2 linked regions of the Homo sapiens genome follow. The protein of the gene in region 1 purifies or fractionates together with the protein of each later gene. This does not show direct contact. Each region holds a gene or a part of one and is shown in the gene's direction. Other genes may lie near its edges.

Region 1 (3,500 bases):
GGGTGTGGAAAAGGTCCGAAAGTGGCATGCGGCAGGGCATGGATCTTCTAGCTCCTGCCGTCCTGCTCCATGAAGCGCATGAAGTGCCTGTCTCTGCTATGGGTTGGCATGGGAACCAGGGGCAGTGGGGGAAATTGAAAACAAGAGCAGTGAGAATGGCGAGTTTCCTGTTTCAGCTATGCCATCTCTGTCTCCGAATCTTCTCATTTAGAGCCTCTCCCTTTCCCTCCCTGGGAGGTTACAGAGTAACCAAGGGAGAGAGACACCAAGGTCTTAAGATACTGATGTAACAAGGGCCAGGGTGTAAAGGCCGGAACAACAGGGATCCCAGGAGAGGGACTGAACTGTTGGTCAGGGGATGGTTGGAGACCTGGTTTGGTGGCCTTTCTCATGTCCATCCCCCCACTTTCTCAGTTCCAGTGTCAGATGAGGATTCTGATGCCATGGTAGATGACCCCAATGATGAGGACTTTGTGCCATTCCGGCCCCGGCGCTCTCCTCGCATGTCCCTACGCTCAAGTGTGTCACAAAGGGCCGGGCGCTCTGCAGTGGGCACCAAGATGACTTGTGCACATTGCCGGACACCACTGCAGAAGGGGCAGACTGCCTATCAGCGCAAGGGGCTGCCTCAGCTCTTCTGCTCGTCATCCTGCCTCACCACTTTCTCCAAGAAGCCCTCGGGCAAAAAGACCTGTACCTTCTGCAAGAAGTGCGTGAGGGTCTTGGGGGCTATGCAGAGGGCAGGGATCTGGGCAGGAGTATGAGTAAGACAGAGACTGTTGGTAAGAACCTAGCAGGATGGAGCTGGGCGAGAGAGTGATGTAGGGAGAGAGTCAGAGTATTTGGCTCTGTGGTCATTGATCCTGGAGGAGGGGCGGAAGCTGAGGAAATGAGAGGGTGGTCTTGAGTGAATATTCAAACCTGTTCCCACCTCTAGGGAGATCTGGAACACCAAGGACTCGGTTGTGGCGCAGACTGGTTCTGGAGGCTCCTTCCATGAGTTCTGCACATCCGTCTGTCTCTCCCTGTATGAGGCCCAGCAGCAGCGCCCGATCCCCCAGTCTGGGGATCCCGCCGACGCTACTCGCTGCAGCATATGCCAGAAGACTGGAGAGGTGAGGACACTCAGTGGGGGCTGATTTACAGAGCCTGGCCAGCCCTGACCTGCCCCTCCCATCCTGGGGCTGCAGGGTCCAGGCCCTGTGGAAAGGGGAGTGGGGAGGAAAGGCGGCCATCATGAGGGAGCGTATTCAAGGACAGAGCTTCTCCAGGATGTGCACAGCTGGCCTTCCTTACCTCCCAGGACCTCACCATCAAGTCGGCAGCCTGCGGCGCAGGTTGGGGGGTCCCTGGGCCCACTGTCTGCTGTGAAGGTCTAGGGTGAGGTGGGGGGCTGACCTTGCATTGGGGTGGGCGGTGGTGGCCAGGCCCTAGCTCAGGGTGCGTGTATGTGTGTGGCAGGTCCTGCACGAGGTCAGCAATGGCAGCGTGGTACACCGGCTCTGCAGCGATTCTTGCTTCTCCAAATTCCGGGCCAACAAGGGACTGAAAACCAACTGTTGTGACCAGTGTGGGGCTTACATCTACACCAAGACCGGGAGTCCTGGCCCTGAGCTCCTCTTCCACGAGGGCCAACAAAAGCGGTTCTGCAACACAACCTGCTTGGGGGCGTACAAGAAGGTGGGGCCGAGGGAGTAGTGCATTAGAGGGCTGTGGAAGGGGGTGTGGTTCTTGGGTTATAAATAAAGGTGGCTGATGGGTCAAGGGCTGGGAGAAATAAAACAAATAAAGGGGGTTTCAATTGTATCCGTTATGTTTTATTTTTGAAGCTGGCTGGTGGATACACAGGTCTTTGTTACATCATCATCTATACTTTTTTTGTATGCCTGAAATATTTCATGTTTAAAACATTTAAAAAATAAAAGTGAAGGGACAAATCCAGCCTCAGCCTCTCCTTCCCCATCCTCACAGAAAAACACACGTGTGTACCCATGTGTCTGGTGCAAGACCCTGTGTAAGAACTTTGAGATGCTATCACATGTGGATCGTAATGGCAAGACCAGCTTGTTCTGTTCCCTGTGCTGTACCACTTCTTACAAAGTGAAGCAGGCAGGGCTCACTGGTAGGTGCAAAGCCCTCTTCTCTGAGTCCCCTGCTGGCCTTCTCTCTACCTCCCATACTCCCCTCTTCCAGAGTAATCCTTGCTGCCCGACCTCAGTCCCAACCACATCTCCCCATGGATTTTCTGTTCGTCTCTTACACTGCCTTACACCTTCTGTGTGCTCTCTCTCTCCCTCTCTCTTTCTCTTTTCCTCTCTCTCTTTCTCTCTATGCCCCAGGCCCTCCCCGACCCTGCAGCTTCTGCCGCCGCAGCCTCTCTGACCCCTGTTACTACAACAAGGTTGACCGCACAGTCTACCAGTTCTGCAGCCCCAGCTGCTGGACCAAGTTCCAGGTACTCCAGACCCTGGACCAGGGATAGAAGGGTTTGGCAACATAAAGAGGGTTGGAGAATTGGGGTAGGCAGGCCTGGGCAGAGCAAAGAACAAGCCTGACTCCCCTTCCCCACCGCTGCACACATCTTGCCCCTCCCTTACTTGTCTTCCTTCCCTCCAGCGCACAAGCCCTGAGGGGGGCATTCACCTGAGCTGTCACTACTGTCACAGCCTCTTCAGTGGCAAGCCTGAGGTCTTGGACTGGCAGGTAAGAGCCCCACCCCCACCCACGTCTTGCCACACGACCAGACTGTCTGAAGGGGTCCTTCCACTTGGCCCCTGCTGGGGCCAGATGTTACAGCTTGTCCTCCCTGCCCTGTGCCCCCACCTCAGGACCAAGTGTTCCAGTTCTGCTGCCGTGATTGCTGTGAGGACTTCAAGCGGCTTCGGGGTGTGGTGTCCCAGTGTGAGCACTGTCGGCAGGAGAAACTCTTGCATGAGAAACTCCGATTCAGCGGAGTGGAGAAAAGCTTCTGCAGCGAAGGTAAGGAGATGGGGAAGGGCAGAAGACACTATAACTCCCAGCCAGGGAGAATGGAGGAGAAGGGAGGGAGGCCGGGAAAGTGGTCCATGAGGCAGGGCCTTCTGCCCGGGATGTTCTACCCCCATCTCCCCTAAAGTTTTGGGCACAAGGGGCTGCTTAGAGAGAGGTTTCAGGTATAGCACCTTGAAAAGGTTGGGTCTCTTGCCCTTGGGTATCTGTGTCTCTGGACTCTCTTTCCTCTTCTCCTCTTTCCAGGCTGTGTGCTGCTGTACAAACAGGACTTCACTAAGAAGCTGGGCTTGTGCTGTATCACTTGTACTTACTGCTCCCAGACCTGCCAGCGCGGAGTCACCGAGCAACTGGATGGCAGCACCTGGGACTTCTGCAGTGAGGACTGTAAGAGCAAGTACCTGCTGTGGTACTGCAAGGTAAGGAGGGTCAGCATGCGAGCGAGGCGGGAAAGAGGGCAGTGGGGAGCACGGGCTGTGGTACTGAGCTCGGGGTGTGGACAGATCTCCAGG
Region 2 (3,500 bases), on another chromosome or scaffold:
CAGGTCATGGTAATAAAAGCACTTTGATTTAATTCATCCATGTATTGCATAATTTTTCTTGGATATGTATGCCTACTAGGTACTTCTTACAACTTAAATATAGATTACTAAGTCACAGATCATCACTGAGAGGCACTTATTTTGACCTAGAAAAACTGCTGGTTCCTGCTAGTTGATCAAATTATAACCTGCTGACCTCTCCCAAGTGTAATTCAGTTCTGCAGATAAACAACATTGACTATATCTTTGGTGTTTTTAGGTGGTTTACATCTTGGAGAAAAAACATTCTCGAGCAGCAACCGGCTTCCTCAAACTCTTGGCTGATAAGAACAGCGAACTGTTTAGGAAATACGCCCTGTTTTCTCCCTCAGACCACCGAGTGCCTAGAATTTATGTGCCTCTCAAGGACTGTCCCCAGGACTTTGTGGCACGGCCTAAAGATTATGCCAACACACTGTTCATCTGCCGCATTGTGGACTGGAAGGAGGACTGCAATTTTGCCCTGGGGTAGGTGATCTCTGGTAGGAAAAACCACAGGTCACAGGCAGAACTCAGTTTAGGTGGTCTTTAGGTAAACTTTTTGTGTATTTTAATTATTATTTCTTTATTGAAGCACGGTTTCTGGTGTATTTTGGTCCTGATTCTTCAGAAGTCACTCTTAGCTGCCACCTCAACTGATTGCCTGTATGTTCCTTGAATTACCAGGCAGTCACATTCTTGTTTTTGTTTTTTGGCGTAAAACATGAACATTCCGAGCCTCTACTTATTTAGTTATGTCATGTGTCCTATTTGTACTTGTGTACCACAGATAATTCATTGCATCAAACAACCAGTCCTCTCCTTGCAGATGCTAGTGTTAAACCATGCAAAGTCTAGGCATATTCAGGAGACCCCAGGCTCCTTTGCTTTAAAATATGAACATGAAGGTATATTTAAATGGCATTCTTTTTCGGTATTGATTTTGCCTGTGGCATTAAAAACTACCCTATTGTAAGAAGGAAAAGGGTATCATGTTTTTGTGGATGCTGTCAGAGATCAATCTAACTTAAATATACATGACATAGTCCAGGAGCATCATGGATGGCCACTTCATTTTCATCTGAAGAAACTGCTGGACCCAGTTGTTTGACCAAATGCTATGCCTATTTTCTTCTTAGAACTGGTATTCATATTGAAAGAAAAGCAGTAAGTTTTAGCTATGTTAAGTGTTTATTATAGATGATGTCTGGTTTATGCTTCACAGGAAATGACTATAAAGGTATACAATCTAGAAAAGAGCCTGTTGATTTACTTTTAGTCTAGTTTAATGACTTGCTTGTTGGTCATCTAACTTGTACAGGATGCACCCTCCTGGGAATGTCCTATGGGTAGGAGAGTCAGCACTGAATGGATGGCTACAATGTGCTGCTTTTATCAGGTTTATTCTATACTTAGCTTCTTATGCCTAGCAAAATAAGCCAAATCAAATGTGTGTGTCATATGTAAGAGTGTTTCATATATAAGAAACACTACCCTGTGCCACTTTTTCAGTTATATGAAGATTGGTGTGATTTAAATGATCTCATAGCTACTTAGGAACAGTTGTACTTTCTTTTTTTCCTCTCAAGTGGTGTGATTGCAATGTCATCATTTTTAAGCCTAACTAATTATCCAAAAGTGATGTCAACCCCTTGAGCCCTAAATAGTCCTTCTTACAAGCTTGCCCGTTTCTCACCATCAAATCAAAAGGCCCAGTAACGGTTGTGCCACCTGGTCCTGTTGATTGTGCAGCCACACTCTGTTTGGCAGTAAAAGAGGAAGACTTTCACATCAAACCAGGAAATCCAGCCTTGTTTTTTATCTGCCTTTCTGTCGTATCCCATTGTGTGTACTTGATTGGACTACTTCCTTAGTTTTCAAGTTGTAAGGGTGTAGTCAGGAAATCTTCATAGTATGAGTTTCTCTTATTACTTTCATGGCCTTATAGGTATTTTTTAATTTTTATTTTTTTTATAGCTGAGCCATTACTTCATCAGGAACCCTTTTCTTGAAGGTAAAATACAACAAAAAGGGAGTCAGGTCTTTGAAGCCTCAAGCACATTTGCTGGATTTAAAGAAATAATATTTAAAAAGTCACATATTAATCATGTAATTTTCAAAATAAAAAATGAAGATAATCATATTTAGATGGAAACATCATGCTTTTTCTCTACCTTCTTAATATAAGGATATAAAAATTGTCATTTATGGAAATATGCCTTTTAAAATCTTTGTGAAGAAGAGAAAATTTATTTTAAGAAATAAAACATGGTAGGTTTTCCTGATGAATTTCTCAAATGACGTCTGTTGTATGAGGGGTGAGGGCTGCAGCTGTTGAGTATGTTGGTGGTCGCCTTGCCATTTTGTTCTGGTTATCCGTTACTGATCTTTAAGAACTGAGGTCACTTTTTCTTAATCAGAACATGCTGTGCTATGACTGCCTAGGTTTCCTCCCTTATCTTTGCCAGGCTTTGACCAGGAGTGTGACGGTAATACCTGCTGTGGGTGCGAAAGTGTTATGGTTAGCTTCCACATAAACTATCCCTAAAAATCAAGTTTAGCTAAGGTGGCTTCCTTCTCAATTTGTTCCCAACTCCTATACCTCTCTCCTTAAAAGTATCGGACTTCCTTTGCCTATGTAATTGCTTCTAATTATTCAAGTTCAAAGTCATTTTCCTCTTCTGTAGTTACATTTAGTTCACCAGGCTGGTTTTGATCCAACTATGTGTAAAGCACTATGCTATATTATCTGAGAAATACAATGGTAAACAAGTTATGGATTCGTTACTTAAGGAACTTATAGTCTAATGCAAAAGGATTTTTGCATGTATATATCATAGCGATAATTTGATTCTAAGAAGTGTAATCCCACTTGAACTAATTTAAATAAAAGTAGAGATTAATATAAGAAGCTGGTGATTCTTTTAAAAACCAGAGCAGGAAATGGAGGAAGTCTCATGAGAAAATCAGAACTAACAAGGCAACAAAGGAACCACAGCTTCTCTTTCACCCCTGTGACTAGCCCAGCCACCACACAGTATCTTTTCTTTACCCCTTTTTGCACATGAGCTGTGTTATTCTGCTTCTCTCTGCACAGTAGTCTTCTACCTGCACAACAGCACACGTGGCCCCAAAATGGCACTGCCAGTCCTATGGCAGTTACATACTAAAGTCTAGATCATAATACAGAATTTCTATGGTGGAAAATCTTACTGGTCTAGCTTGAGGCAGGTGTTTTCCCTCGTCAGTAGTTTCAAGCAGAGGTGGGGGTCCAGAGTCCCATCCATGACTCACACCCAATTTGCAGCGCTGTGGGACTCCTGGGAAAGAGCGTGGATAAAACAGATGGCTTGAATGGCTTATCTCTTTGAGTTCTACCTACAGTACAAAACAGAATGTTCTAAGTTCTTCCATAGAATAGAATAATTTGGGGGAATTTAGAGGAGGTAGGTAAAGGGGGAAATCCAGGATCATTTCTTATA

What was found. The genes of interacting proteins can lie anywhere in the genome.
Region 2: the proteins of ZMYM3 (region 1) and DIS3L2 fractionate together in Homo sapiens (co-fractionation; one large-scale study listed by BioGRID). This does not show direct contact.

The regions. Positions count from the first base shown.
Region 1 is NC_000023.11:71,247,641-71,251,140, reverse strand, and holds part of ZMYM3 (zinc finger MYM-type protein 3), read left to right. Parts: intron 1-414; coding exon 415-709; intron 710-937; coding exon 938-1,115; intron 1,116-1,461; coding exon 1,462-1,680; coding exon of another isoform or gene 1,681-1,698; exon of another isoform or gene 1,699-1,937; intron 1,938-1,971; coding exon 1,972-2,122; intron 2,123-2,339; coding exon 2,340-2,455; intron 2,456-2,616; coding exon 2,617-2,703; intron 2,704-2,828; coding exon 2,829-2,979; intron 2,980-3,234; coding exon 3,235-3,407; intron 3,408-3,500. UniProt on the Homo sapiens protein: Plays a role in the regulation of cell morphology and cytoskeletal organization.
Region 2 is NC_000002.12:232,136,213-232,139,712, forward strand, and holds part of DIS3L2 (DIS3-like exonuclease 2), read left to right. Parts: intron 1-259; coding exon 260-507; intron 508-3,500.